Linked DNA regions of Homo sapiens. The protein of the gene in region 1 purifies or fractionates together with the protein of each later gene. This does not show direct contact. Each region holds a gene or a part of one and is shown in the gene's direction. Other genes may lie near its edges.

The links.
Region 2: the proteins of GSK3B (region 1) and GSKIP purify together in Homo sapiens (affinity purification with mass spectrometry; 10 studies listed by BioGRID and IntAct, with this or other methods). This does not show direct contact.
Region 3: the proteins of GSK3B (region 1) and GSN purify together in Homo sapiens (affinity purification with mass spectrometry; 2 studies listed by BioGRID and IntAct, with this or other methods). This does not show direct contact.
Region 4: the proteins of GSK3B (region 1) and CTNND1 purify together in Homo sapiens (affinity purification with western blotting; 2 studies listed by BioGRID, with this or other methods). This does not show direct contact.
Region 5: the proteins of GSK3B (region 1) and PRUNE1 purify together in Homo sapiens (affinity purification with mass spectrometry; 5 studies listed by BioGRID and IntAct, with this or other methods). This does not show direct contact.
Region 6: the proteins of GSK3B (region 1) and USP48 purify together in Homo sapiens (affinity purification with western blotting; 2 studies listed by BioGRID, with this or other methods). This does not show direct contact.
Region 7: the proteins of GSK3B (region 1) and FRAT2 purify together in Homo sapiens (affinity purification with mass spectrometry; 2 studies listed by BioGRID and IntAct, with this or other methods). This does not show direct contact.

What each region holds. Positions count from the first base shown.
Region 1 is NC_000003.12:120,000,193-120,004,248, reverse strand, and holds part of GSK3B (glycogen synthase kinase-3 beta), read left to right. Parts: intron 1-2,009; coding exon 2,010-2,203; intron 2,204-4,056. UniProt on the Homo sapiens protein: Constitutively active protein kinase that acts as a negative regulator in the hormonal control of glucose homeostasis, Wnt signaling and regulation of transcription factors and microtubules, by phosphorylating and inactivating glycogen synthase (GYS1 or GYS2), EIF2B, CTNNB1/beta-catenin, APC, AXIN1, DPYSL2/CRMP2, JUN, NFATC1/NFATC, MAPT/TAU and MACF1.
Region 2 is NC_000014.9:96,380,195-96,384,250, forward strand, and holds part of GSKIP (GSK3B-interacting protein), read left to right. Parts: intron 1-2,052; 5' UTR 2,053-2,053; coding exon 2,054-2,311; intron 2,312-4,056. UniProt on the Homo sapiens protein: A-kinase anchoring protein for GSK3B and PKA that regulates or facilitates their kinase activity towards their targets.
Region 3 is NC_000009.12:121,274,372-121,278,427, forward strand, and holds part of GSN (gelsolin), read left to right. Parts: intron 1-4,056. UniProt on the Homo sapiens protein: Calcium-regulated, actin-modulating protein that binds to the plus (or barbed) ends of actin monomers or filaments, preventing monomer exchange (end-blocking or capping).
Region 4 is NC_000011.10:57,767,998-57,772,053, forward strand, and holds part of CTNND1 (catenin delta-1), read left to right. Parts: intron 1-4,056. UniProt on the Homo sapiens protein: Key regulator of cell-cell adhesion that associates with and regulates the cell adhesion properties of both C-, E- and N-cadherins, being critical for their surface stability.
Region 5 is NC_000001.11:151,006,821-151,011,651, forward strand, and holds the start of PRUNE1 (exopolyphosphatase PRUNE1), read left to right. Parts: upstream 1-1,628; 5' UTR 1,629-1,812; coding exon 1,813-1,851; intron 1,852-4,831. UniProt on the Homo sapiens protein: Phosphodiesterase (PDE) that has higher activity toward cAMP than cGMP, as substrate. Plays a role in cell proliferation, migration and differentiation, and acts as a negative regulator of NME1. Plays a role in the regulation of neurogenesis.
Region 6 is NC_000001.11:21,776,094-21,780,149, reverse strand, and holds part of USP48 (ubiquitin carboxyl-terminal hydrolase 48), read left to right. Parts: intron 1-4,056.
Region 7 is NC_000010.11:97,331,882-97,336,488, reverse strand, and holds FRAT2 (GSK-3-binding protein FRAT2), read left to right. Parts: upstream 1-1,759; 5' UTR 1,760-1,916; coding exon 1,917-2,618; 3' UTR 2,619-3,992; downstream 3,993-4,607. UniProt on the Homo sapiens protein: Positively regulates the Wnt signaling pathway by stabilizing beta-catenin through the association with GSK-3.

The sequences.
Region 1 (4,056 bases):
TTACACTGTGAGCATAGAACTGCCTACTCAAGCCTCAGCAATGGCAAACGCCCCTCCCCCCACCAAGCTCCCACATCTTAGGTTGATCTCAGACTGCTGTGCTGGCAGCGAACAAGGCTGTGTGGGCGTGGGACCCGCCGAGTCAGGCATGGGAGGGGATCTTCTGGTCTGCCTGTTGCGAAGAGCATTGGGAAAGTGCAGTATTTGGGCAGGAGTGTATCGCTCCTCCAGGTACAGCCACTCATGCCTTCCCTTGGGTAGGAAAGGGAAATCCCCCAACCCTTTGCACTTCCCAGGTGAGGCAATGCCCCACCCTGCTTCGGCTCGCCCTCCATGGGCTGCACCTGCTGTCCAACCAGTCCCAGTGAGATGAACCAGGTACCTAAGTTGGAAATGCAGAAATCACCTGTGTTCTGCAAAGATCTTCCTGGGAGTTGTAGACCAGAACTGTTCCTATTCAGCCATCTTGGAAGCGACCATGAATGCCATCTTACAAATGAAAGTGTTAATTGGTCACAGACATTCACTGGCTTTTGTGTATATTAATACTTCTGTGAATTTAAATGGATATAAATATTGGTTATAATATTCCACTAGTGCATTTGGATATTCATTTATCTAGCAATTTATATTTCACAGAGAAAAATACTCATAAATATTATATTACTTTTCTTTTATTAGGTTAATTGGAATTCAGTTAGTATTTTAGAAAGGAAATTGTAATGGAAGAATAACAGGAAAAAATAAAAGTCCAATAAGTGAGCCTAAGGACTTATATTGTACTGAGAATTGGTTTTAGATTTGTCAGGGAAGAGAGAAGAAACAGTAGACATTTTTGTGTACGTTGAAGTCACTAAAAGAACAATGTAAAGCTCTTTTAGATCAGATACTAGGTAGCATAATACACAGAATCGATTAAGAATTCAGAAAACAAGATGGTGACTGTGGACTATCCCTAGTGAAGTAGGAGGTGGCTCTTGTGCCTGAATTGAAGAGAGCCGTTGGATTGCTACTGGGGTGAGAGAAGGCAAAAAAGGAAAGAAGAGGTCTGTGAGTGAATAGAGACCCTGGAGCCAGTGATATGCTTATATAATTGGGCCTCAGTTCAGAATGGGTTGGATTATTTAAATTTTTATATCTGTTAACCCCAAATTAACATTCTTTTCTCCACCTGAGCTTTCTCTGAGAGGTCTTCTACTTTGCTAAAAAGAAGATTCAGGGAAGCAAACACTCAAAGCCTTACTTTCCTAAATGCAGAAGGATCTGAAGAGAGAAGTTTTAAACATTTTTATTTGCACATATTTTATTTTCAAGTAAAATAAGGTCTTGAAGAAAGCCCTAAGGCCTTTTAGAATTGGATGGATAAGGTCAGACTCTTATGGGTTCACCTTTTGCTATTTGACCATGGGCAAATTTAACATTCTTCCTATTACCTATAATATGGGAACAGTACTGTCTACCTCATGGGGTTGAAACTAAGCATTGTGTCTGGTCTATAGAATGACTGAATACATGGGAGTTTAAAAAATGACTTATAATTGAAACAAGTAATTGAAGTAATTACATGTAATAAACTAAAAATAATTTGTAGTAAAGAATATAGTTTACTTTGACCAGGCGTGGTGGCTGATGCCTGTAATCCCAGCACTTTGGAGGCCAAGGAGGGCGGATCACCTGAGGTCAGGAGTTCAAGACCAGCCTGGCCAACATGGTGAAACCGCGTCTCTGCTAGAAATACAAAAATTAGCCAGACGTGGTGGCAGGTGCCTGTAATCCTAGCTACTCGGGAGGCTGAGGCAGGAGAATTGATTGAACCCGGCAGACGGAGGTTGCAGTGAGCCGAGATTGTGTGACTGCACAACAGCCTGGGTGACAAGAGTGAGACTCCATCTCAAAAAAAAAAATAAAATAAAAAATAAAGAATATAGTTTACCTTGTATATTTTGGCAGTTTTCTCTATTTAATTCCTTACAGTTCTCGTGAAAAAAAAATTTCCTTTCTTCCTTTAGGAGACAAGGACGGCAGCAAGGTGACAACAGTGGTGGCAACTCCTGGGCAGGGTCCAGACAGGCCACAAGAAGTCAGCTATACAGACACTAAAGTGATTGGAAATGGATCATTTGGTGTGGTATATCAAGCCAAACTTTGTGATTCAGGAGAACTGGTCGCCATCAAGAAAGTATTGCAGGACAAGAGATTTAAGGTAAAATGTCCAGTATTTCATATATTTTGTTGCTGTCGTAATACATATACCATAAATGATTATTTTTTTAGTTGCTTCTTTTTGCTTCAAATTTCTTCTATTGTGCGCATTTTTGTTCAGCTCAACCATTGTAGTGATTTTATTTCTAGTCATGTATTTTGTAGAGATAACATTCACTGAAGATTGCAGTATTACTTTTGTAGTCATTACAAATGACATATGTAATATATGTATTTTTTAATCCTGTGAAAGGTAAGTTAAAATTTCTTAATTTATACTATAAAAAGTGACCTGTCCTCACCGTTGTACTGTGTTGATGTAGACCAGAGGAACACTGCCTGTAGCATATAAGCATTTTATGTATTTGACTATGCTTCCTTTTTTCAAAAAATTTTTTTAATCCATGTTGCAACTTGTGTTAGTCTGTTTTTGCATCTCTATAAAGGAATACCTGATATTGAGTAATTTATAAAGAAAAGAGGTTTAATTGGCTCACAATTCTGCAAACTGTACAGGAAGTGTGGTGCAGACATCTGCTTCTAGTAATTGTCTCAGGAAACTTCTAATCATGGGCAGAAGGTGAAGGGCGAGTAGGTGCATCACATGGCAAGAGCTGAGCGAGAGCATGAAGGGGGAGATCCAGACTTTATTATTATTATTATTGTTATTACTATTTTGTAGAAACGGGGTTTTGCCATGTTGTCCAAGCTAGTCTCAATCTCCTGAGCTCAGGCAAGTCGCCTGTCTCAGCCTCCCAAAGTGCTGGGATTACAGGCGTGAGCCACCATGCCCGTCCCCAGACTCTCTTAAATAACCAGATCTCCTGTGAACTAACTGAGTGGGAACTCACTCATCAACAAGGGGATGGTGCTAACCCCATTCATGAGTGGTTGACCCCCTTGATCCAATACCTCCCACCAGGCTCTACCCCGTCTCTACTAAAAATACAAAAAATTAGCCGGGTATGGTGGCGGGCGCTTGTAGTCCCAGCTACTTGGGAGGCTGAAGTAGGAGAATGGCGTGAACCCGGGAGGCAGAGCTTGTAGTGAGCCGAGATCGCGCCACTGCACTCCAGCTTGGGGGACAGAGTGAGACTCTGTCTCAAAAAAAAAAAAAAAAAAAAAAAAGGAGATTACATTTCAACATGAGGTTTGGAAAGGGATAAACATCCAAACCATATTACAACACTATCCATTTTTCTCGTAACTTTTTTTTTTTTTTTTTGCTATCTTCCCTTTTTTTTCTTGTCCTTCTGCCTTTAGACACTAGCAATCCCAAAATTCAGTTCTCGTCATGTATTTTCATTTTCTGTACCTCATTAGGGGAGCCTATGCATGGAAGCTCAGATGTCATCTCTATGTTGTGGTATAGCAGAGAGAGTCAGAAGACACCGGGTGTAATTAAGCCTCTGTCACTATGCAGCGTTGCTCCCTTTACTACTCTTCCAACCTCTGCAACATTTTAGTGGGAGCCTCCAATGTACCAAGATCTATGGTAAACATGAAGGGATATAACAAGAAGAAGTGATCACTGTTCTGGTATAACACTAGTTATACCACATTCTAGTGTCCATCTGCTGTAAATATCTGGAACATTCTAAAGAATTTTTAAAAATTCAGTTGTTTTTGTTTTCAGTTCTCACCTCTCCCCCAAGTACTAGTCTCATGTTGTCAAATGCCCACTGGATCTTGATATCTGAATATTGTACTGTTATCTCAAATTGTCAAGCCATCTTATCTAACTATGACTTAACTTTTAAGACTCAATGGAAATCTCTCCTGCTAGTTCCCAGAACTTTGGATTTGCCTTTTCTTTTTAATGGTTTTATAATTCACTGTTATTCAGACTGTTCC
Region 2 (4,056 bases), on another chromosome or scaffold:
TGACTAATTCTGTAAAGTGCTGTGAGAGACGAGATAAAGAGTCTTTAAAACATTATTAATTGAAATAGGATTGGAGGAATACATTATACATTTGCTATGTAAGTTTTTGAAATAGCTTTACATATGTTATTATAAATTGCATTCAGCAAGTAGTTCTGACTTTTGTAATGTGCAAATGACATTCAGCTGTAGGAACTCCAGCTTCTTAAGATTTTTGCTGATAATTTAGAGCAGTGGCTGCACAGCAAAATCACTCAGGAGCTCTGAAAAAAATAACTCGTCTTCCAGAGATTTTGATTTTGTTTTTCTGCAGTGAGGAAAATGTATCTGTAATTTTATAAGCTCTTACAGGTAATTCTAATGACTAGCTTAAAGGATTTTGAATGTCACTATCTTGAAGGATTTTGAATATTACACAAATAGGGCATAACTTGGAAATAGCAATGGACTGTGCAGTGTACCAGATCGGTGTCCATATTGTCAGAAAAAAATTGAGACTCCTTCTAAAAATGCATTTAAGAGCCAGGTGTGGTGGCTTGAGCCTGTAGTCTCAACTACTCAGGCGGCTGAGGTAGTAGGATGGCTTGAGCTCAGGAGTTCTAGGCTATAGTGCACAGTGATCACACCTGTGAATAACCACTGCACGCCAGCCTGGGCAACATGGTGAGACCTTGTCTCTTAAAATACAATGAGTTTCTTACCAGTCTAATCTAACTCCAGTGTGGTGAGGGGGTGGGACTAGACCTTGACCACAGTGCCCAAGTAGATAGGAAATGAATGTTGATTGAATATGTGAGTGAGTGAAGAGTTATGCTTCATTCACGACAGCAGATGCTTAATCCATATCAGAGAAGTGAAACTTTACTTTTAAAACCTGCCAAGCAAAAAGAAAGCACAATAGCTCACCATAACTTGTTCTGTAAAGCCTTTTGTACATTCCAAAGCACTTTCACATTAACTTTTCTCATTCATACATTTCAAATTTTAACAATACATATAGCCAGGAAGATCTTTTTTAACCCCAGTTACAGAAGAAAAGCTAAAACCACATAGCAGCCTGGCAGTAATATTTGATCAAGTTAGCGTGAGAAATTAGAAATAATATTTTTCAAAATATAACATTTGGGTCAGTTCAAATTAATGGTGAAAAGATGAGTTATTCAGTAAATGGTATTGGTACAGTTGGCTATCCATTTGGAAAATAAAGTTATGCAAAATAAATTCCAGATGGATGAGTTAAATTCAGATACAACGAGAATTTAGGGGATTTTTAAAATGTAATCATGGTATGGGGAAGGCCTAGAGCAGAACCCCAATCCAGAAGTCATAAAAGGAGCTACTGAGACTTACCTACTGTGGTAGGTAAAGACTTGCACTCTGATTTCATGCAATTTAGATTTATTTCCATTTCTGCTTATTGCAACTGTATGATCTTAGAACTAAAACTATCCTTTAAACATCCAAACAGATGTTTACTCAAGGAAATACATATTACAACAATGAGCTATCATTCTTTGCCTCTTAAATTGGCAAAAATTTAAAAGAATTGGAAAGAGGTGAAAAAGAGTACAGTCCCTCATATTCTATTGGTAAAGTATAAGTCATACTCTCTTTTTTTGTTTTTTTGAAGGGTAAATTGACAGTATCTATTAAAAGTTAAAATAAGTATGTCCTTTGACTCAGCAATTTCAGTCCTAAATATCTGTCCTAGAGAAATAATTATACATTTAAAAATATGTACTAGGATTGTTACTGAGGCATTATTCAAAATAGCTAAAAAACACAATATTCTAAATGCTTATCAATATGGAAATTGACCTGTTGGGGGTAAGTGGAGAAGGGAGATTCTTTTTTTTGAAGATCTATGGGTGTCGGTGATTTTGCTGTGAAAAACCACTAGAAATGTTTTTAGATAGTATTTTTCCTAACAATTGTTAGCTAGTGTTTTGTACTAAGGAGCAATTGTAAGGCATAGCTAATTTTAATCAAATGTAGTAGTTTGAATGTCTTTCTATAAACAAATTTTATAACTGCTTTTTTTTTTTTTTACAGAATGGAAACAGACTGTAATCCCATGGAGCTAAGCAGTATGTCAGGATTTGAAGAAGGTTCAGAGCTGAACGGTTTTGAAGGAACTGACATGAAAGACATGAGGCTCGAAGCTGAAGCAGTTGTAAATGATGTTCTCTTTGCTGTTAACAACATGTTTGTCTCGAAAAGCCTGCGGTGTGCGGATGATGTGGCCTATATCAATGTGGAAACAAAGGAAAGAAACAGATATTGCCTAGAACTCACTGAAGCAGGGCTCAAGGTAACTCACTTTTCCTTTTAGAAAAAAAAATTATTTATGTCTTTACCACTTTATCAAAAAGAGGGGTAGTGGGGAGGGGAAGAGTGTTAAAAGAGAACTGGATATTCAGTAGCTTCCAAATTTTTTTAAGAAAAACTTTTAACCTAGAAATTTTTATTAATTTTAAAGGCTTTTGATCGATATGGGGAAACAGAATTTTTTTGAAAAACATTTGATTTGCAGGGCGTGACTTTGTTTTAATCATGACCCCCAAAACTAATTTATTTCTCATCTATAGCTAAATGTGTTCACCAGAATTATACATACATTCTTTGCATTGAATGGGTTTTGCAGTCACTGTGTTGAAAAGATTTTCAACACCTCTTGAAAATGTCGCTTCTGTTAAAATAACATACTTGACAACACTGTTTTCCAACTCTGAGATCAGAAATAAATCAGAGCAGAACATTCCACCCCCAGATTTCCAAGAGTGTCCCATTAACCCTTTATTATGAGTATCTCTTTATTATGAGAGCTTTTCTAGGCGGATTAACCTTTCCATTCTTTAAACCAAAATCATGAGTTTAGAATAGTAGAAAACATCACCTGAGAGCAACTTTTAATTAAAAAAGAAAAAACTATAGGCCAGACCTGCGGGCTCTTACCTGTAATCCCAGCACTTAGGGAGGCCAAGCTGGTAGGATCATTTTAGAGCAGAAGTTCAAGACCAGCCTGGGCAGCATAGCAAGACCGTGTTTCTACAATATATTTTTTGTTAATTAACCCAACATGGCAGCACTTGCCTGTAATCCAGCTACCTGGGAGGCTTAGGAGGGGGCCTATGAGTTCGAGGTTGCAGTGAGCTAGGATTGGGCCACTATACTCCAGCCTGGGTACACAGACCCTGTTTAAAAAAAAAAAAAAACTATTATAAAATCTTTGACCTACTGAACAAAGGGATAGACATTAGAAAATCTAAAATCTAGTTTTAACCTTACTAATCAGTGAATCTTCAGTCTTAGAAAATGTCATACATTTCTGTGTTTCTATATTTATTCAAAGTAATTGTACATTATCATAAGGTGGTGAGCAAGGCCTGCCTAAGCAAGTAAGAATGTCACATGATATCAAGTACATAAACATCTCTTTAATTCGCTGGATTCACTTTGCTGAAGATGAGTCGTGTATACTGTATATTCCTTGATGGAGCAAATTGCAAGGCCAGCATCTGTACTACCCTCAGTTCCCTCACAGCTGCTGCAAAGATAGCTGCTTAGCTTTAAGCATAGTACCTGAATTAACTAATTTTTGTGCACTTCTTTTCACATCCTTAAATTTGTACTAAAAGCTCAGAGTATTTAGAGGTGAATCTTAAATCAGAAGTAGAGATAAATGACAGAATTAGTAAGATAATTCTGTCTTGTGTTGGTTAATTCTAAGTTGACTGTGGAGAGGTAGAAGGAGTTCTGATCAGAGAGTCAGCAGTCTTAAATGTGAATTTAAGTGATCTTGAGTGAGTCCGTCTACCCCTGAGAGAGTTTCTGCTTCTTAATCTATAACTTGGAGATTTAAAAAAAACTTAAAACGATTTGGGGAATGATTATATGACTGTATGATACAGAAAGATCTGAACCATATGTAAAACCTGACATGTAGTAGGTGCTCAAATATTTGTTTGTTTTTCAGTCTGATTCAGTTAACATTTATTGAGCAACTATCCTGTGTCAGCAATTGAAAATCAAACCATGCATAAGACATGATCCCTG
Region 3 (4,056 bases), on another chromosome or scaffold:
GCAGTTTATAAACAATACTGCAATGAACAACCTAGTGCATACTTTTTTTGTGTGTTCTTCTTTTATTATTTCCTAGAAGTGAGCCCTAGAAATGGAGTTCCTGAGTCAAAATGACACATTTTATAGCTTTTTCTTGTTAAAAAAAAAATTCAGTGACACTTGTGAAAACACGGTAAGGAAGTCTTTATTCAGGAACATTGCCTTGGGCATAGGGACCACTGCAACAGGGTCCTACAGTGAGGGAGAGAGTTTGGGCTCAACTCCTAATACAGCATGGGCGAGTGGGAATTGATAGCTGCAGAGCAGGGTAGGGGTCAGCGGATGGAAAATTACTAAGAGGAAGCTCAGGAATAAGGGATATTCTTGCTAAACCGACCTAACAAAATTATTGATGAAGACAAACCAGGGTGATTCAAACATCAGTGGGGGCATGGTGGAGGATGAGGAGCCTGATCAGATATCAAGGATGAGGGGTTCTGGCTAAACAGACTTAGCAGGATTCTTTTGCTAAAACTGGATTTTACAAGGAAGTGCACAGGTAGGCCTAGGAGAAGGTTCAGAAGCCTGGCTAAAGTTTGGCCAAGCAAATAATCTGTGTCATGCTAAATTTTGCCAAATTTCTGCTCATAAAGGTTACAGTAGTCCTTATTCCTACCAGCCATCCGTGAGAATGGCAGCATTCTTCAGGAGCATCTGAAGCTGGTTATAAAAAGCTCAGCTGTCCTTTTATAGAATAGAGTACAGCGACCATTTTCCTGAAACGTTACATTTCATTCATTCATTTGGCAAATACACTTGCACAATTCAGCAGCAATAAAGCATAACAAGTTAAGATCCCAGGCCGAAGAAGTGGAGAGAACTTGGTTCTCCTTCTGGTTTATGTTTTGCACTTGCCCTAAGACCTTGAGGACATCACCTCACTGAGTTTCATTTTTCTCAGCTATACAGTTAGGGCTTCAATACCCACTTCACAGAATTCTACAAAGTACCTAACACAATGCTTGGCCAGTGCAATCATGTGGATGCTGGGAATTTGTATTATCTCATCTGACTCCAAAGAGCCCTGGAAAGGAAGCAGGTAGGGACAGATCCTTCCCATTTCATGGACTCAGAGAAGAAACGGCCATGTTTCTTGGTGTCCTGAGCTTCACTTCAGGAACTGGTAGTCCAAAGGAACTGTATCGTTCAGAACGGAGGTAAAACAGGCTTTTGTGGGCTAGCCTGTATCCATCCCCCTCCCACCTCCCCTCCCACCACAGTACCTGTTTCTCTTGGAAGGCAAGTTCCCAGTTCCAGTGGCAGCCAGAATTCTTTCTATGCTCTTTTAGAAGGTGGGAGATGCCTGCCTAGACTGTTCAGTGGTCTTAAAAAAGAGACCATAAAATTCATGGTTGCATAAAATATAGTTTTCATAGATTTAAATTGCATTTTAAATGCACTAAGGCTTCATCTTTGAGCTTTTCAGAAATGTGGGATTTCAGACTCCATCTTTAGGGTTGCCTTATTTAGCAAATAAAAAACAGTGTGCCAGTTAAGCATGAGTATGGCCCTTGGAATGTTTGGGGCATAATTATACCAAGACATCTTATTGTCTTTCTGACATTTAGATTTAACTGGGCATCTCATGTTTTATCTGGCAACCCTACCCACCTTGGGTCTACTGAATCCAAATCTGGATTTTCACAAGATCCCCATGGAATTCGTGTGCGAATTCAAGTGTGAGAAGCATTGCATTGGGAGCCTTGCCATCAAAGCCCTGAATGAATCCTTTTTGTAACAAATCTGTTGGTAAAATATAATGCACTATTTATAAAGAGCCTGATTATTCCCAAATCAACCATTTGCACACATCTGTGTGTTCATGTGTTAGGTTTTCTTAATACAGGCTACCCTTGCACTGTTGTCAGTTGAAGGGAAGAATTCCTTGCTTTGGTAAGAAGCCCTAGCCCCTCTCAAGGACCTATTTTCCTCATCTGTAAAATGGGCTACATCCTTAGCATCCGTGCCAGCCTGTGGTGACCAGCTGAGGTGGCCCCAAGGGGATGCATGGCTAGAGCCCACGCCAGGTCCCTCCTCAGCCTCCTCACAAAGGACCGAATGACTTGGCTCTGTGATCCCATCCCCCAGAGACTTTGGTGTGACTGTGGTGACCCTTGGCATAGCGCACCCCCCCGACTGCCTCCTCATCTCAAAACTTTCCAAACCATGACTTTTATAGCAGGGCTTTAGGAATCGCCTGGCTCTACCCTCTCACTTCATGGCTACAGATACTTGTGCCCTGAGAGAGCAAGTGAATTTCCCAAAGCCAACAGCAAGCCCTCTGATTGCTGCTCTACCAAACCAAAATGATTTCAGTTCTCATGAAACCTAAGGCCTGACTAAGGAAGATTAAGAAACCTGGTGGTGGTCGGGTCCTGTAGTGGGGTGGGAGGAGGGGGGAGGGATAGTATTAGGAGATATACCTAATGTAAATGACGAGTTAATGAGTGCAGCACACCAACATGGCACATGTATACATATGTAACAAACCTGCAGGTTGTGCACATGTACCCTAGAACTTAAAGTATAATAAAAAAAAAAGAAAGAAAGAAACCTGGTGGTGGTCATACGCCTAGTTTGTCTTGGTTGTGTGGTCTTGGGTAAGTCATTTCTCTCTCTAACCTATTCCCTGCCCCCACCCCTCCATAATATGGGGAATACACATTTTCCTGTTCCCCTAGGTCTCCTTTCTACCTGGTTAAGGTTTTATTTTAAGATCCAGTGGTAGATCTTGGTCTGTCAATTGGTCCTAGAGTGGAATGCTTTATGAAATCACTGGTACATGTGTTAGGTCAGAGACTTAATACCATGACATCATGAAAGATGTCTTTAGACCCTTTCTCTCCTCATTGCTAACAAAGATTTTATGAACTGTGTTTCAGCTGGACAAAAAAGATGTTCTAGAGCATTCTAAGATCGCCTGGGGCTTTTGTTAAAATGCAGATTCTGGTTCCACAAGTCTGGGGTGGGGCCTGAGGCTCTGCATTTCTAGTGATGCTGATGTAGCTGGTCCAGGGATCACACTTTCAGTTGCAAGATTTGAAAACAATCTGTTATTAGTGTAGAATCAATACTTATGAGATAAGGGACTTAAGAGGCAAGTCCCTTGTTCAGGGCTAAAGACCCAGTGACAGTAATAGGGTCTAGCCTGGAGCCCAGATCTTTTAATGTCTTGTCTTTGACATCTGACTTATCTGTCTATTTTATCTGCAGCTATGAGTTTCTAGAATCTGAACAGCCCTTAAAATACTTTGCTGCTTAATTATGTAGCAAAGTAGGTTCTTCTTTAGGAAAGAGAGTGACTCAGTAGAAAGCCATTGGAAGGGGGAGAAATACAGCTAGCATTTGATCAACCCTTTCACCAGAAGTTTTTATACTTGAGATTATAAACATTCTTTCTGTATTTATGGATGCAAACTACAGTCCTGGGGAGGCCCCAGTCTGTTTTTGTATGCCTCTGAGCTAAGAATGGTTTTATAGTTTTAAAGTGTTGTTAAAAAACAACAATAACAAACAAACAAGGAAGAATATGCAACAGAGAGGGTGTGTAGCCTATGGAGCCTAAAATATTTACGGTCTGGCCCTTTTACAGAAAAAGTTTGCTGACCCATGATCTAGAGTACCCAAAGATTTGCATGTTCTTTTTTTTTTTTTTCTAGTCAGCAAGAGGCCCAGCCTTATAGCTTTGAAATATAGTGAGGTCAAGACGTAGGGGAGGCAGCCTGCGTTGGTGGGAACTGCCCAGACATCTTAGCTGTGTGACCCTGAGCACATTACTTCACCTCTCTGAGCTTGTGTCCTAGCTTCACAAAATGAGGACAAAGATTGCTGCCTGGTAGAGTTATTGCAATGATGAGACATGCCTGTAGAGTTTAACGCTTGGAAGGTGCACAGAAAATGATAACTATTGTTATTAGGGGTGGCCATTTGAACGCTTATGGCATTAATGGACAGATATCATGTTACTCCCATCAGGTCTGAAGGCCCTCCCAATGAACTGGGAGCAGTCTTTTAGGA
Region 4 (4,056 bases), on another chromosome or scaffold:
TGATTTTTGTATTTTTAGTAGAGGAGGGGGTTTCACCATATTGGCCAGGCTGGTCTCGAACTCCTGACCTCAAATGATCCACCCACCTCGGCCTTCCAAAGTGCTGGGATTACAGGCGTGAGCCACCATGCCCGTCCGAAGGTCTCTTAAAACCTGAGAATCTGTGGTAGATGTAGGTGCTTGCATTACAGAATATATGGGCTTCCTGAGTGGGTAAAGCTAACTTTTAAATTTTTTTAATGGGAAAAAATTAGTAATAGGTAATATTGGAGAGTTGTGTGGGTGAGGTTCAAAACAACGGTAGTATGAGAATGGATAACTTTAGTAAAGTGAAGTGTCAGTGGGAGGAAGATAAACAGAATGATTTGTATGATTTGTGGACATCATCCTTTTTTTTTTTTTTTTTTTTTTTTTTAGACAGAGTCTTGCTCTGTCGCCCAGGCTGGAGTGCAGTGGCGCGATCTCGGCTCACTGCAAGCTCTGCCTCCCGGGTTCACGCCATTCTCCTGCCTCAGCCTCCCGAGTAGCTGGGACTACAGGCGCCCGCCACCACGCCTGGCTAATTTTTTGTATTTTTAGTAGAGACGGGGTTTCACTGTGTTAGCCAGGATGATCTTGATCTCCTGACCTCGTGATCCGCCCACCTCGACCTCCCAAAGTGCTGGGATTACAGGCGTGAGCCACCAAGCCCAGCCAGACATCATTCTGTATTTGCAACCCTTATTTGTGGACATTTATAAAACTGACATGAGTTCATGAATGCTTCCTGTGAGAAGTGTGCTTCTAAGAAAGGAGTCAGCTTTTATATGTGGAAAAGCCAAGCTGTGGTCTGTGGGAAATACATATGTGTTAGATACAACCTTGCCTAGAAACTTGCGGGTTTATTCCAGCCTAGGAATTTTCCTTCTCTTTTCCTCCCTTTTCTTCATACTTAAGAACCCATGAAACTAGTGTTCTAAATAGTACTTAAGCCAATTTCTTTGAATAATTTTTTTTTTTTACATTTTTATTTTAAAAATGAGACAGAGGCTGGGCGCGGTGGCTCACACCTGTAATCCCAGCACTTTGGGAGGCTGAGGCAGGCGCATCACTTGAGGTCAGGAGTTTGAGACCAGCCTGGCCAACATGGTGAAAACCTGTCTCTACTAAAGATACAAAAAAAAAAAAATTAGCTGGGCATGGTGGTGCATGCCTGTAATCTGAGCTACTCGGGAGGCTGAGGCAGGAGAATCGCTTGAACCCGGGACCCGGGAGGTGGAGGTTGCAGTGAGCCGATATCATGTCATTGCACCCCAGCCTGGGCGACAGGGCGAGACTCCGTCTCAAAAAAAAAAAAACAGAGAGACAGAGTCTTGGTATGTTGCCCTGTCTCCAACTCCTGGGCTCAAGTGATTCTCCTACTTCAGCCCCTGGAGTAGCTGGGACTACAGGCACACACCACCTTGCCTGGCTATTTAAGCTAATTTCTTTTGGCACTCTGTAGCCTCCCACATTCAGTTCCTCACATTTATTTTACCTATAATTTCTTCTACCAATTCTCCTGTATTTTCTCCTTTTCTTTTGCTTTCCTGTTCTCTGTGGTGTCTTCCTTTGTCTCTCTTTGCCTCCTCTTGCCTCCCCTATCTTTTTTTTCTTTTAGGTTGGGTTTCCTTTTTTTCCCTTTAGGTTTTCCCTTAGGTCTTCATGGGCGTTGCTTTGCCTCACTAACAGTTAACATAAAGACGTATTTCTGTTTCTTGTACCCATGTGCTAAAGGTACAACTGTTAGGATACCACTTCATTTCAGTTAGATCTAGTTTAGGCATACAATTGTAATCCAAGAAGACTGATCTCTTCTAGTGATTCAGATTGGTTTTATCTTTGATTTTTAGATTTCATCTGCATTTCTTGATTAATTACTCATTTTGGTTTAGTTGACAGTTGAGCAAAAAAAAAATTACTTTCTCCGGAGTAAATCATCTGTTTTATTTATGCTTTCTATGTTGTTCTATGTTGTAGTGCAGTAGCACATTAGGAGGTATCTTTGTGGAGTGAAAAGATTTTTGTGGCTGGGCGCGGTGGTGGTTCATGCCTGTAATCCCAGCACTTTGGGAGGCCGAAGGCAGGTGGTTCACCTGAGGTCAGGAGTTTGAGACCAGCCTGGCCAAAATGGTGAAACCCTGTCTCTACTAAAAATACAAAAATTAGCCGGGCGTGGTGGCGGGCGCCTGTAATCCCAGCTACTCGGGAAGCTGAGGCAGGAGAATTGCTTGAATCTGTGAGGTGGAGGTTGCGGCGAGTGGAGATCGCACCACTGCACTCCAGCCTGGGCAACAGAGTGAGACTCCGTCTCAAAAATAAAAAATAAAAAAAAAAAAGAAAGATTTTTGTTACACGGTTGGGCTCGGTGGCTCACACCTGTAATCCTAGCACTTTGGGAGGCCGAGGCAGGCGGATCACGAGGTCAAGAGATTGAGACCATCCTGGCCAACGTGGTGAAACCCTGTGTCTACTAAAATTTCAAAAATTAGCTGGGCGTGGTGGCACATGCCTGTAGTCCCAGCTCCTCAGGAGGCTGAGGCAGAAGAATCCCTTGAACCCAGGAGGCAGAGGTTGCAATGAGCCGAAATCGCGCCACTGCACTCTAGCCTGGCGAGAGAGTGAGACTCCATCTCAAAAAAAATAAAAAAATAAAAAAAAAGAAAAGAAAAGATTTTTGTTTTAGGAAGCTCATATTTTAAGAAACTAAAATATATTCTCATGGTTGAGGACATAAGACATTGTTATAGAAACTAGGTCAACTTCTCAATACCTTTATCAAAGCACCTGCAGTTCCCATTTCATTGCAAGTGAAGTAAATCTCATTGAAATAAAGTAGCTGGTGTATATTCAGTACACTTTTAAAATAGCCTATTTTAAAAGAGAAATTGGTGCCAATCTGATTTATTTCCTGCTTTGTTGGAATGGGGGAAGTTCTGTAACCTCATTGCTGTTCTGCTCTCTATTGACTACTTTGTTAACTGGGGCACAGTTGGCCTCTTGGATGTCTACCGTGCTGAAGGTCAGCCAAATAGGCAGGTAAGACTACCTAGGCCTCTTCATAGGCCTAACTAAGATCACAGTTGGAAAAAAAAAAGTATAGAAAAAGAAAAGAAAGTTGTTTTTTTTTTCTAAAATTTAACTTTTTGTATTCATTGAAGAAGGAAGTAAAACATCTCCATTCAAAAGAAATTTGAGAGTCTGTTTATGCCATACACTGAAGTACAACAATAAACAAAATAGACCTACTGTTTGTTCTCAAAGAGCTTACATTCTAGTTGTGAGAGACAAATAATAAGCGAGTAAATATGTAGTATGTCAGAGTGTGGTAATATTATTGAGAAAAAAGTAAAGTAGAATGAGTAGTATGGAGGAAAGAACGTCTCAGGGTGGGGGTGAGGTTATTTTATATAGAGTGGTCAGGGAGGGTCTCATGTGTAAGGTATGTTTGAGAGAGACCAAGAGAAATGGAGGATGGAGTCATGTAGATATGAGGAGTAGGAAGTGCAAAGGCCCTGAGGCTGGTTATTGCCAATGAACAAAAGAGATTGAGGGGAGGGAAGGAGAAGTAAGAGACCTGTCCAGAGAGGACCAATGGGAATGTATTTTGGGGGAAGGGGAATAATGTAGGGTCTTGTTGTATACTATATTGTACAAAGAAAAATTATCTCCACTTCAAACCCCAGAGACAACGGCTGTTACCGAATTTTTGTGTCTTTCTTGTAACTTGAGGTAGCACCTGACCCAACCTCCATATTTCTCCCATTGTGGAATCTCCATGAAAGTATAGTTAGCAGATAATTTGCATAGTAGCAGATTTTGCATAGGTTGATTACCTTTGTCTTAGAGAATGATAATAAGGCAGCTACTTAGAATAAGCTGATATGTTTTTGGGAAGTGGGATCAAAATTTTTCTTTTTCTTTTTTTTTTTTCTTTTTTGATACAAGGTCTGTCTCGGCAGTGTTAACAATCTCAGCTCAGTGCAGCCTCCGCCTCCCACGCTCAAGCCATCCTCCCACCTCAGCCTCCTGAGTAGC
Region 5 (4,831 bases), on another chromosome or scaffold:
CGAGAAACAGGAGAGAAAAACAACAGACCCTTTCTCTTCCCTCTGCCTGCCTCTAGAAGGGACGGAGCGCTTGTGCCTCTCTGGTGAGAATAGGGAAGAGCAAGTGCCCTTGCTAAGTAGGGAGGAGAAGGGCTGGACAGAAGCAGCTTGTTGGATCTGGGCTCTCTCTCTGGGTATGGCAGTCCTTTGCTCTGGATCCACAGAAGCAGGAGCAAAGAGCACGATATTTGCATGTATTACTCAATTAATGTTAAAAACAAACAAACAAACCCAGCTCTTTTCCCTCTGGAGCCCTCCAGAGAGCTCCTTTCCAAGTCCTTGCTGTATCATTTTTAAGTCTAGAAATGAAACTGGTTGGGTTGTGCACCTGGTAGAGTGCAGAGGGTGTGGTAGAAGCCCCAGGCTCTGGGCGCGATGGCTGACGCCTGTAATCCCAGCACTTTGGGAAGCCAAGGCGGGCGGATCACAAGGTCAAGAGATCAAGACCAACCTGGCCAACATAGTGAAACCCCATCTCTACTAAAAATACAAAAATTAGCAGGGCATGGTGGCACATGCCTGTAGTCCCAGCTACTCGGGAGGCTGAGGCAGGAGAATCGCTTGAACCCGGGAGGTGGAGGTTGCAGTGAGCCAAGATCCTGCCACTGCACTCCAGCCTGAAGACGGAGCAAGACTCCGTCTCAAAAAGAAGAAGAAGAAGAAAAGAACTGGCAGAGCAGGCAGGAGATCCAACACGCCTGTGCTCTGGATCTTGGTTCCACTGCAGGCCTCTCATCAGTCACCTCCTCTCGATTTACAGCTGGGGAAGCAGGAAAAGCTGGTGTGAGGCTGACGGTAGGAAATAAAGGGATAGATAAATAAATGAGGGAATTTTTGATGATGAGTGTCCATTTATTTGCAGTACCTGCACTACTCTGCGGCTGGAAAGTGGCAGTTAAGGGAGGTTGGAACCTAACTCCACATTCTGAAGGGTTCCCTAAACTCTATGTACAGGGCCGCCACAGGATGAAATTTCAAGCAACTCTAAAGGCTGAAAGAGCAATTGGAACAATTAGGGTGGCAGAGAGCAAAAAGCCAAGGTTACAACCGTCCAAGAAAGGAAGAAGATATTTGCCGAGGCTGTAGAAAAAAACAGGCTACAGAGTTGCAAAGGGAGAAGCAGCAGGAGTTGGCAGGAGACTGTAGGTGTTAACAAGAGGGGTCAAAGATTATTCTAATGTTCTCCTAACATGAACAACCACAAAATTGGTGGCGACTGAGTCAGTTTGGTAAAGGGCAGAATTTGTAGAAAGAAGATGATCTGTTTTGCCAAGTGTCATTTAAAATGTCACCAGATGCTCGGTGTGATATATGTAAAGATGTTATACTTGGCCTGATCTGAGAGGGAAAGTTCAGATGCCACAATAATGGGTTACTGTGACACATACACATTTGTTTACCGAACGACTGATCCCTCAGAAAACAATCCTTCCCTCGGTTGCTAGGGACATTGCGGAGTTGCGGGACTACGTTTCCCACGTCGCCCCACGCCACGCCCCCTTGGCCTCGCCGGAAAGACGTCCCAGGAGCCTCTGGGCGTAGAGCCCCGCCTCCGCCGCTGGGGGCGGGGCGACGCCGGACTCCGGAGCGCCCGCTTACGCAGTTCCTCCCGGGGTCGGAGGCCGATTCGCCGTGTGGCGGGTTCGAGTCCCGCCTCCTGACTCTGGCCTCTAGTCCCTGAGTCCCGGGCGGGCTGCATTCGTCGGGGAAACCTCTCCTCGACCAGGGGCACCTCTACTCGACCAGGGGCGACGGCGTACTTTGGGCTTCATCATGGAGGACTACCTGCAGGGTTGTCGAGCTGCTCTGCAGGTAACGAATCCCTGTCTGTGACTGTAAGGAATGGAGCACGGGGTCCAGGAAGGACGAAGACGTGGGATCTGGGGGAGCCTCGACGGTCCGTGTGGAGGGAACACTGAGTTGTGGGGAGGGGGGTTGGGGCCTGATCAGTTTTGGGGCATGAGGAGCGAGGAGCGAGAAGCCAGTTTAGGAGCGTGAGAATGCTGCTTGTTCAGTCTCCCGGTTTTTGGCTCCCCGCCTTTGGGGTCCGCCTGAGAGCGGGGAGAAGTCTTGGGTCTGAATCCTGCATTTGAGCCTCTGCTTGCTGTCATCTTGGTCAGTTCCATCAAAAAAACCAGGACTGTGCCGCCGCCAGCCTAGCCCCGCGAGGTGTGTTTATTCTTTTCTCCCCGCCCCTCTTTGAGTTCTCCGCTCCCAAGGCTTCGCTTGGCCCACTGGCCTCCAGGTGAACCTCGGGGGTGTGGAGGGAACCGGTGCTCACGGCCTTATTTCCTCCGAATGGCAGTTTCTGTCTGGCGGGCTGAACTCATTTCTAGGTTAGAAGTAGTCACAGTATTTTACTTTAAGTCAGTGTTTTTAAGCCAAACATACAAAATCCATCAGGCATATTTGTTGACCCACAACCAGCATTCCTTTGCCTCCAGGTTTCTCCTTTGGCCTTAACGCACACAAATGACATAAAAATTCTCCACTTGGAAGGGATAAGCACAAAGTGTGTTTGGAATCAAAACCATAAATATGACTACTCAATGCTTTGTGGCTTATTTTTGGTGCTCTCTGACTCAGTTGGACTCACCCAGCCATGCTGAGCCGTCATGAGGCATTAGGCTGTTATCCCCAGTTAGCAGCAAAAAGCTAACCAGAGACAGGCTCCAGGAGGTCACCCGGCCCCTCTACTTTGAGTTATACTGCCCTGAAGAAACCTAGATAGATGGCTTGCTGAGCTTTCCTTTTTAGATATCTTAAACTCTACAAATTCCCCTGAGGGACAGATTCTGGTCTTTAACAAATCCTGAAAGTCACTAATTCCTGCTGCAGACTCAGCTGCTGGAATAAATGAATTGTCTTCATATTGAATTGGGGAGAAGGTCCATTTTAACACCAATTACATAGACATTTTCCTTGTGAAAAACAAATTTGGGGAGTTATTTCAATGCATAAGGCCATTTGGAACCAATCCCTTTTTGTTACCTCTGAGTCCACCACAGGGCGCTTATTGGAGGACTAATGTAGAGTTTTTGGGGCACCGTTCTAAGTGCTAAACAGTTGGATTTTACCCCCCAGTAACCCAAATGACTGGTCTCTTCCACCATTTGGTAAAGTGCCCTTGGACCTGAAACCTCACCAAATAGTATTTCTTTGCATGCATCTACTCTCCAGCATATATCCTCCAGAGCCTCCCCCGACCCCCAGGTTAGTAGTATATTCTCTATTTTTATTTTGTATTTGTTTATTTATTTTCAGCCAGGGTCTCACTCTGTTGCCCTGGCTGGAGTGCAATGGTGTGATCACCTCCCCGGCTCAAGTGATCCTCCCACCTCAGCCTCCCGAAAAAGCTGCGACTATAGGCAGTGCCACCACGCAGGGCTAATTTTTTGTATTTTTATAGAGACAGGGTCTCGCCATGCTGCCCAATCTGGTTTCAAACTCCTGGACTCAAACAATCCCCCTGGCTTGGCTTCCCAAGGTGTTGGAATTACAGGTGTTAGCCACTGTACCCAGCCCGAATAGTATATTCTCTACAGCAATATGAAGCTGGAAAAATACTTGATTTTTCCAATACTGCTGGCATCTCGACCTTTCTCTCCCTGCATTCATCCCCCAAGGAGCAAGATCTAGATCTTCCTTTCAAACTTGTGAACTTGTGAAAGGTGAGATTGTGTCTTAGAGCTTGCATCATCACATAGCCTCTCCAGGGCCTGGAGAAATGAGAAAATTAGACTCTAGGAAGGTTAACAGGGGAACTGATGGCAAGACATACTGGTAGATGCCAACAATTTAAATTGCTTTAATTTTTTTTTTTTTTTTTTTGAGATAGACTCACTCTGTCGCCCAGGCTGGAGTAGGCTCACTGCAACCTCCACTTCCCGAATTCAAGCGATTCTTCTGCCTCAGCCTCCTGAGTAGCTGGGATTACAAGTGTGCGCCACTATGCCTGGCTAAGTTTTGTATTTTTAGTAGAGACAGGGTGTCACCATGTTGGACAGGCTGGTCTTGAACTCCTGACCTCAAGTGATATGCCTGCCTTGGTCTCCCAAAGTGCTGGGATTATAGGCATGAGCCACCACACCCAGCCTAGATTGCTTTAAATTATAGAAGTAGTAAATGTGTATTTCATGAACAAATTTAAATACCAAAGGGATATGAAATGAAAAAGATAAAGATCATTTTTCTTTTCTCCTCTCCATCCAGTTCTCCAGAGGACACCGTTAAGTTTCTTGTGTAAAGAGAGAGAGGTGATTTAGACAGATACACTCTTAAGTTTGAATGTTTCTGTTAAACTACAGTTTAATTATAACTTTCAGAAAATCATGAATGCTCCTCTTTGTGCAGGATAAAGACAGCTGGTAATCCAGCCAAGTCTCCCGTTGCTACCATATTTTTAGTATTTGATACCACAGAAATTTTCTATAGCCTCTGCCACAGAGACAATAGGATGTTCCATTAAAAAAAAATCATTTAACCAAATGTCCTATTTATGGTGACTCATCTTTCACTTCTGAGGGGAGAAATCTTTGCTTCAGGGTGGGGCTGCATTGCAGTTTAGGTGTTCATCCAGGACCCCTTGGATAATGTAGTGTGTGCAGTTCTCAGGCATGAGGCAGGAATCAGGAGCTGGCTCTCCTTAGAAATTTGCAGTCCTGGCATCAGTATTGTTCCTGTTTTCTCTGCTGAGAGGGTTTGTCTCTCTCTGGCTTTCTGTCTCGTTTATTTTTCTCCCCCATTAACTATTCTGAAGAGTAGTTATCATACCATATTCAGCTTTAGAAGG
Region 6 (4,056 bases), on another chromosome or scaffold:
TTTCCACCTTTTGCTTATTTTGAGTAGTACTTCTCTGAACATTTGCATACAAGTTTTGGTCTGAACATCTGATTTCAGTTCTTTACCTGGGAGTGGAATTACTGGGTCATACACAGTCAATTCTGTGTTTAACTTAACCGAACCGCGAAACTTCCACAGTGGTTGTACCGATTTACATTCCCACCAGTGATGTATGAGGGTTCAAATGCTTCATCATCCTCATAAACAGGTACTATTTTCTGTTTTTCTGGTTAGGCCCTCCTACTTGGGTGTGAAGTGATGCATCTTTGTAGTTTTGATTTGCATTTTCCTAGTGACTAATGAGTTCAGCGTCTTTTCATGTGCTCGTTGCCTCTTTTCCTTTTATTGATCAATAATATGCCATCATATCTCTGTATCTACCACATTTTTAATTTGCATTCATCTGCTGATAGACATTTGGGTCATTTCTACTTTTTGGCTATTATAATGTTGCTATGAACATTAGTGTAGTAGTTTTTGTGTGGGCATTTATTTTTATTTCTCTTGGTTATAGAGCAAGAAGTGGGATTGTTGGGTTGTGTGGTAACTTTTAACTTTTTATTATTATTATTATTTTTTTTTTGAGACGGAGTCTCTCTGTGTTGCCCAGGCTGGAGTGCAGTGGCGCCATCTCGGCTCACTGCAACCTCTGCCTCCTAGGTTCAAGCGATTCTTGTGCCTCAGCCTCTGAGTCACTGGGATTACAGACGCCCACCACCACACCCGGCTAATTTTTTGTATTTTTTAGTAGAGACTGGGTTTCGCCAAGTTGGCCAGGCTGGTCTTGAACTCCTGACCTCAGGTGATCCACCTACCTCGGCCTCCCAAAGTGCTGGGATTACAGGCTTGAGCCACCGCACCCAGCTCTTTTAACTTTTATTTATTTATTTATTTTTAATGAGGTCTCACTCTGTAACACAGACTGTATTGCAGTGCAATCATGGCTCACTGCAGCCTTGAACTCCTGGGCTCAAGCAATCCTCCCGCCTCAGCCTCCTGCCACTACAGGCACATGCCACAACACGAGGCTAATTAAACAAAATTTTTTTGCTGGGCGTGGTGGCTCACGCCTGTAACCTCAGCACTGTGGGAGGCCAAGGCTGGCGGATCACGAGGTCAGGAGATCGAGACCATCCTGGCTAACGTGGTGAAACTCCGTCTCTACTAAAAATACAAAAAATTAGCCGGGCATGGTGGCGGATGCCTGTAGTCCCAGCTACTCGGGAGGCTGGGGCAGGAGAATGGCATAAACCCGGGAGGCAAAGGCAGGAGAATGGCACGAACCCGGGAGGCAGAGCTTGCAGTGAGCTGAGATACGCCACTGCACTCCAGCCTGGGTGACAGAACGAGACTCCGTCTCCAAAAAAAAAAAAAAATTTGTGGAAATGGAGTCCCACTTTGGTGCCCAAGCTGGTCTTGAACTCCTTGCTTCAAGTGATCCTCCTGCCTTGGCCCCCTGAAATGCTTGGATTGCATGAATGAAACTGTTCATGGCCTTTTTTTGGCTTTTTTTTTTTTTTTTTTTTTAAGATGAGGGTCTTGCTATGTTGTGTAGGCTGTCCTTGAACTCCTGGGCTCAATCAATACTCCTGCCCCAGCTTCCCTGGTAGCTGGGACTGTAGGCACGAACCACCATGTCTGTGTTTAATATTTTGAGGAATTGTCAGGTTACTTTCCAGAGTGGCTGCGCTATTTTACATATTCACAAGCAGTATATGAGGATTCCAATTGCTCTATGTCCCTATACTTGTTACTGCCTTTTTTCTTTTAGCCATCCTAGTGGGTGCGAAGTGGTGTCTTATGTTTTGATTTGTGTTTCATTGATGACTAATCACGTTAAACATCTTTTTGTGTACTTATTGGCCATTCATATATCTTTTTTGAGAAATGTCTGTTTAAATCCTTTGCGTGCTTTTAAATTGAGTTGCCTTTTGTTATTGAGTTGTGATCTTTTTTTGGTCTTGTTTTTGTTTTGTTTTTTTTTTTCAGACGGAGTCTCACTCTGTCACCCAGGCTGGAGTGCAGTGATGCCATCTCGGCTCACTGTAACCTCCGCCTCCCAGGTTCAAGCGATTCTCCTGCCTCAGCCTCCCGAGTAGCTGGGACTACAGGCGCACACCGCCACGCCTAGCTAATTTTTTTTTTTTTTTTTTTTTGGTATATTTAGTAGAGACGGGGTTTCACTATGCTGGCCAGGCTGGTCTCAAACTCCTGACCTTGTGATACGCCCACCTCAGCCTCCCAAAGTGCTAGGATTACAGGCGTGAGCCACTGCATCCAGCCAAGTTGTGTTCTTTATATATACTGCATATAAGTCCCTTATTAAATATATGATTTGCAAATATTTTTTCTAATTTCTATGGCTTTTAATTTTATTGGTGGTATCATTTTCAGTACAAAAGCTTTTCATGTTGATGTAGTCCAATTTCTTCTTCTTCTCCGCCTTCTTATTCTTATCAGTGAAGCAGGGTTCTTGCTTTGTTGCCCAACCTGGAGTGCAGTGGTGTGATTGTAGCTCACTGTAGCCTTAAACTCCTGGTCTCAAGTGATCTTTTTGCCTCAACATCCCCAGTAGGTACAACTGCAAGTTGTACCACCACACCCAGCTAATTTTTTTGGTATTTTTTGTAGAGTTGGGGTCTTACTATGTTACCCAGGCTGACCTTGAACCTTTAGCCTCAAGCAGTCCTGCTTCAGCTTCCCAGAGTACTGGGATTACAGGTGTGAACCACCTGGCCCCAACATTGTACTATTTTTTTTTTGACGCTTTTGGTCTTGTAAGAAGCCACACCTCACCCAAGGTTTGAGCAGTTTTAATTAATGAATTAGTTAATTTTATGAGACAAGGTCTGGCTCTGTTGCCCAGGCTGGAGTACAGTGGTGCAATCTTGGCTCAATGCAACCTCTGCCTCCCAGGGGCTCAAGCCATCCTCCTACTTCAGCATCCCGAGTAGCTGTGACTACAAGCATGCTCCACCACACTCGGCTAATTTTTGGTGTTTTGTTTTTTTTTTTCAGATGGAGTCTGGCTCTGTTGTCCAGGCTGAGTGTAGTGGCGCAATCTTGGCTCACTGCAACCTCCGCCTCCCATGTTCAAGCGATTCTCCTGCCTCAGCCTCCTGAGTAGCTGGGATTACAGGCATGCACCACCACACCTGGCTAATTTTTTTTTTTTTTCTTTGAGACAGAGTTTCACTCTTGTTGCCCAGGCTGGAGTGCAGCGGCACAAACTCGGCTCACTGCAGCCTCCGCCTCCCAGGTTCAAGCAGTTCTCCTACCTCAGCCTCCCGAGTAGCTGGCATTGCAGGCACCACGCCCGGCTAATTTTTGTATTTTTAGTAGAGATGGGGTTTTGCCATATTGGCCAGGCTGGTCTCGAACTCCTGACCTCAAGTGATCCCCCCGCCTTGGCCTCCCAAAGTGCTGGGATTACAGGCGTGAGCCACTGTGCCTGGCCCTGTCAGCTTTTATTTAGATATCCAAAAAGCTCTCTTTCTACTCACTTTCTTCTTTTTTTTTTTTTTTTTTTTTTTTTTGAGACAAGACACTATTCACTTTCTCCTTTTTTATAGAGACAGAGTCTTGTCACATTGCCCAGGCTGGTCTCAAACTCCTGGGCTCTAGCAGTCCTCCCTCCTCAGCCTCCTAAATTGCTGGGATTCCAGACATGAGCCTTTCTCCTTTTGTTTATTTCTTCTCTTTGCAAGAAGAGACTAAATAAATAAATAGTATCACCAATATGTATTTTTCATACTTTATGCAACAATTTGTTATGAGATACCAAAGCTGAAGAATGAGGTGTTTGACCATATTCAAAGACCACATGTGTCAGGACTGTTTACATTTCTGAAAGTACTTAGGGCAATCACAGGATGAAAGCAGTGTGTACTAAATCCTCTGTCCACAGAATTCTGCAAATATTATGTGTCTTGAGGGCAGACTTGTTTGTTAACAGTGAGGTTGGTGGTCAAGTAAGTTCCTGGAAGTAAAATTGTTGGGTAAGGGATGTGTGTTTTTCATATTGATCCATGTTGC
Region 7 (4,607 bases), on another chromosome or scaffold:
AAATTTCCCTATATAATCCGCAAAAAAAAAAAAATTCAATAATACTCAAATACTAGTGAAGGTGTAATGATGTATGCTCAAGCATTAATGATGGTAGAGTACATTTACCTAACTCTTGGAAAGACACTTCCTGAACATTTATCAGTAAACCTTAAAATACCCAACTACTGTGACTTAAAATTCCACTCCTGGGAATATGCCCTAAGGAAAGAATCATCAATATCTTAAAGTGTCGCGCACAAAAATGTTAGTTACACACTTAACGATGGTGAAATTAGGCAAATGTTAAAAACATAGGCACTTGATGGAAACTTATGTAATCATTAAAATGTTTTCAAAGTGCATGCAATAACACGAAAAACGTTTATGATGTAAGGCAAAGTGGAAAAGTGTGTAACACTGTATGCATGTGTTTGTATACTACACTTTCATAGAACAAAGGCTAAAAAGGAAAAAAATTTAAATGTGAACCATGAGAGATTTTTTCCATCCCTTATATTTTTCTTTTTTTTTTTGAGACGGAGTCTCGCTTTGTTGCCCAGGCTGGAGTGCAGTGGCGTGATCTCGGCTCACTGCAACCTCCGCCTCCAGGGTTCAAACCATTCTCCTGCCTCAGTCTCCCGAGTAGCTGGGATTACAGGCGCCCGCCACCACGCCCGGCTAATTTTTGTATTTTTAGCAGAGATGGGGTTTCACCATGTTGGCCAGACTGGTCTGGAACTCCTGACCTCAGGTGATCCGCCCGCCTCGGCCTCCCAAAGTGTTGGGATCACAGGCATGAGCCACCCACCGCTCCTGGCCAATCCCCTATATTTCTATTTGAACCTTAAAAAAAAAAAAAGACCCTTCTTTAGCCGAGCGGCGGTGAGTCCTATTCTCATGATATGTCCGGGGGCTTGAAGACTGCGGGAGGGAAAGCCTCTGGGACCTCACCTCAGAGCGATTCTGCTCTGCTTCAAAGCGTCCCCTCTTAGGCCGGGCGCGGCGGCTGACGCCAGTAACCCCAACACTTTCGGAGGCCGAGGAGCGAGGACTCCTTGAGCCCAAGAGTTCGAGACCAGCCTGGGCAATATAGTGAGACCCCCCCCCCCCACCACCGTCTCTACAAAAAAAATTTTTTTAATTAGCCAGGCGTGGTGGCCGCGCCTGTGGTCCCAGCTGCTCCGGAGGCTTAAAGTGGGATGATTACTTAAGCCAGAGTTCGAGGCTGCAGTCAGCCGTGTTCGCGCCACTATACTTCAGCCTGGGCGACAGAGACCTTTTCTAAATAATAAATAAGTAAATAAGTAACGTGCCGCCTCTTCACTCCCAATTCCCTCCGCCTTTCCCCGCCCCGCCTCGTCGAAGCCGGACCCGCGGCGGCCCGCCCCTCCCCCACGACCAGGGCCGGGAACTGCGGGTGCGCGGGGCGGGAGTCGGGCGGGCTTAGGCGCGGCCGACACGTGGGGAGGGAGGCCGCGGCCCAGGAGGCGGGCCCGGAGTGGGTGTGGGTGTGTCCGTGCGTGGGAGAAACCAACCTCAGCCTCCTCCGAGGCGCCACGTTTCAGCACGGCTCGTTGGGCCCGGGAGGTCGGAAATCAGTCCCCACGCCCCGGACCCCCTCCTGGAGGGACAACGAACACAGGCGCGGGACGGCTTCGGTCACCGCCCGCGCCGCCCTTTGCCCCCGTGCCTGCTCGCGCGTCACCCCCGCCCCGGTGCGGTGGTAGGGCCCGGCGCGACGTCACCCATTGTTTACAAATCAACCCGAGCCGGCAGGATTCCGGCTCCAGCGGCTGCAGGCGCGTGGCTCGAGTGCCTGGCGGGCTCCGGCTTCCGCGTCCGCCCCTGCTCCGGCTTCGCCCGCAGCTCCGCGCCCGCGGGCAACCAAGCCCCCAGCGAAGCCCGCACAGCTCCGGGTGCCAGGACGGGGGGCCATGCCGTGCCGGAGGGAGGAGGAAGAGGAAGCCGGCGAGGAGGCGGAGGGGGAGGAAGAGGAGGACGACAGCTTCCTCCTGCTGCAGCAGTCGGTGACGCTGGGCAGCTCGGGCGAGGTGGACCGGCTGGTGGCCCAGATCGGCGAGACGCTGCAGCTGGACGCGGCGCAGGACAGCCCGGCCTCGCCGTGCGCGCCCCCGGGGGTGCCGCTGCGGGCCCCGGGGCCCCTGGCTGCGGCGGTGCCGGCGGACAAGGCCCGGCCCCCGGCGGTGCCGCTGCTGCTGCCGCCCGCTTCGGCTGAGACGGTGGGCCCGGCGCCCTCTGGGGCCCTGCGCTGCGCCCTAGGGGACCGCGGCCGCGTGCGCGGACGCGCTGCGCCCTACTGCGTGGCGGAGGTCGCCGCAGGCCCCAGCGCGCTGCCGGGGCCGTGCCGGCGAGGATGGCTCAGGGACGCGGTCACCTCCCGCCGCTTGCAGCAGCGCCGATGGACCCAAGCCGGGGCACGCGCCGGCGACGACGACCCGCATCGGCTCCTCCAGCAGCTCGTGCTCTCGGGAAACCTCATCAAGGAAGCCGTGCGGAGACTCCAACGAGCCGTCGCCGCGGTTGCAGCCACGGGCCCCGCAAGCGCCCCTGGGCCCGGGGGAGGCCGCAGCGGACCTGACCGCATTGCCCTGCAGCCCTCAGGCTCCTTGCTCTGACGCAGGCCTCCTGGAGGAGGAAGTGGAGGCCGCTGCGTAGACCCAACAGCGTCCAGTTCCTACTAACTCTGAGCTGAAGCCGACGTCGCCAGCCTGGGAGCGACCACTTTGGCTGCGGGGAGGCGCGTGGGGAGAGATCTCAACCAGAGAAGTTACCAGCCGCGGCGAGGCCGTCGGAGAAAACTTAAGCGTGGAGAAATGTATGCGCCAGGGTGCTTCCGTGGGGCATGAGAATTTCCCGGGCCATCCAAGCCCAAGGACCTGGGATAAACTGGGAGAACTATGGCAGCTACTTGCATCGACTTGTACCTCACTTAGCCCTTGGGGGCGTCGTGAGCTTGGATTGTTTAAGGAGGGCTCAGGGGTAGGAATCGCGATGGCTTTATAACAATACTTGAAAACTAACGACACGCATACATTTTCTTATTTTCTGGTGGAGGAGCTTAGTAAGTGGTGCTACAATTGCTGTGCAAAGAAATTCCAGAGGGGAGAAGAATGTAAAAGTTTGGTGGTGGGTGGCTTGGCATTGCCCCTTTTTCCCACCGATTCGGTGGCTGGTGAAGGTGGGAGATGTGAACTCCAATTAAGGGACTGGAGAGAGGTGAAGAATTTTGCAGGTGGGAGATTTGGATTTGAATGTGGACTTGTAAATGACTTGACCTTGCCATCTGTGTTCAAGGTCACGGTTTGCTGTGGGGTTCCTGGGAGAGCTTACTCACCCCGGAGTCTTTTCTTTCTCTTGCTCCAAGAAGAGCCCTGTTGGTGCTTTACCACCGCTTGGAGTCTCCCGAGGACACAAACAGGCAGAGAGGGACGTGTAGGGAGAGTTCTTTCCTGTTTTCTGTGCTTTCCTTTTTACAGGACTCCCGGAAGGCCACTCATGGCCATGCCAGGAGCTTTCTCAGAAACAGTCATAAACGATCTCTTGAGTCTCTTTCTTGTCCTCCCAGCTGAGCTTTCTTATTCCACCCTTTCTGGTGTCTATAGGAATGCATGAGAGACCCTGGACGTTTTTCTGCTCTCTTCTGGCCCTCCATGGAGTCATGGGCCTCGGCCTCGGCGGCTCCTCACCCTCACAATTTATTTCCTCCTCCCGTGCCAGCCCTTCTTTTGTGTCTGAAACCGGTTTTAAAATGTGACTCTCCCAGAGAAGAAGCCGCTGGCTGTATGAAACTTGACGGCGCTTTTGTAAGGTGCCACCCCCAAACTTTAAGGTAGCTAAACCAATTTTTAAAAGATTCAATGGCTTGTTCATCCTCCAGATGTAGCTATTGATGTACACTTCGCAACGGAGTGTCTGAAATTGTGGTGGTCCTGATTTATAGGATTTCATAATTAAAATGTCTGCTGAATAAATTTGGCTTTTGTTTTGGAGCACGGTTTGGCATTTTGGTGGAAGGTGGGAGAGGGGCAGAAAAGCATATGGGGATGTCCTTAATAAAGAGGGCACTTGGGCTAAACCGGGGGGGGGGGACCTGGACAAATGGTTTGGGCCAATGCTGATGGGCACAGAATCCTAGTAGAGCCACAGGACTTGAGTGCTTCTAAGTTTTTATTCCACAAGATCAGAAAATTGAGTCCAGGTTTTTAGAAGCTGCAAGATGGGCTTCCACTCCCTTTGTGGAAAGACAATGTATTCTAGAAATGCTTTCTGGGCTGGAGAGCAAAGAGGTGCTGTGGTGGAGGGAGGTGGGTTTTCATCTGGACGTTTTTGTGCAAAATGGGGAGGGCACAGGCGAAGCCAGCCTGCTTTCCCCTTTGAGACTGACCTAGTCTTGAGCTATGGCCTTGGGAGAGAAAAACAGGGTTTTACAGCAGTGTATTTGGTAGTTGTAAAATGGCTTGGTTTGAGCACTCAGGGGTTAGATTTGACCGAAGTAGCCCTCCTCCTCTCCTCATTCTCTCTCTGCCCTGTCTTCCCAGGCATAGAGCCCTTGCTGAATCCCTTCCTAGTTCCTGCCTTGCCCTTTTCTCTTTTTAATTTAATTT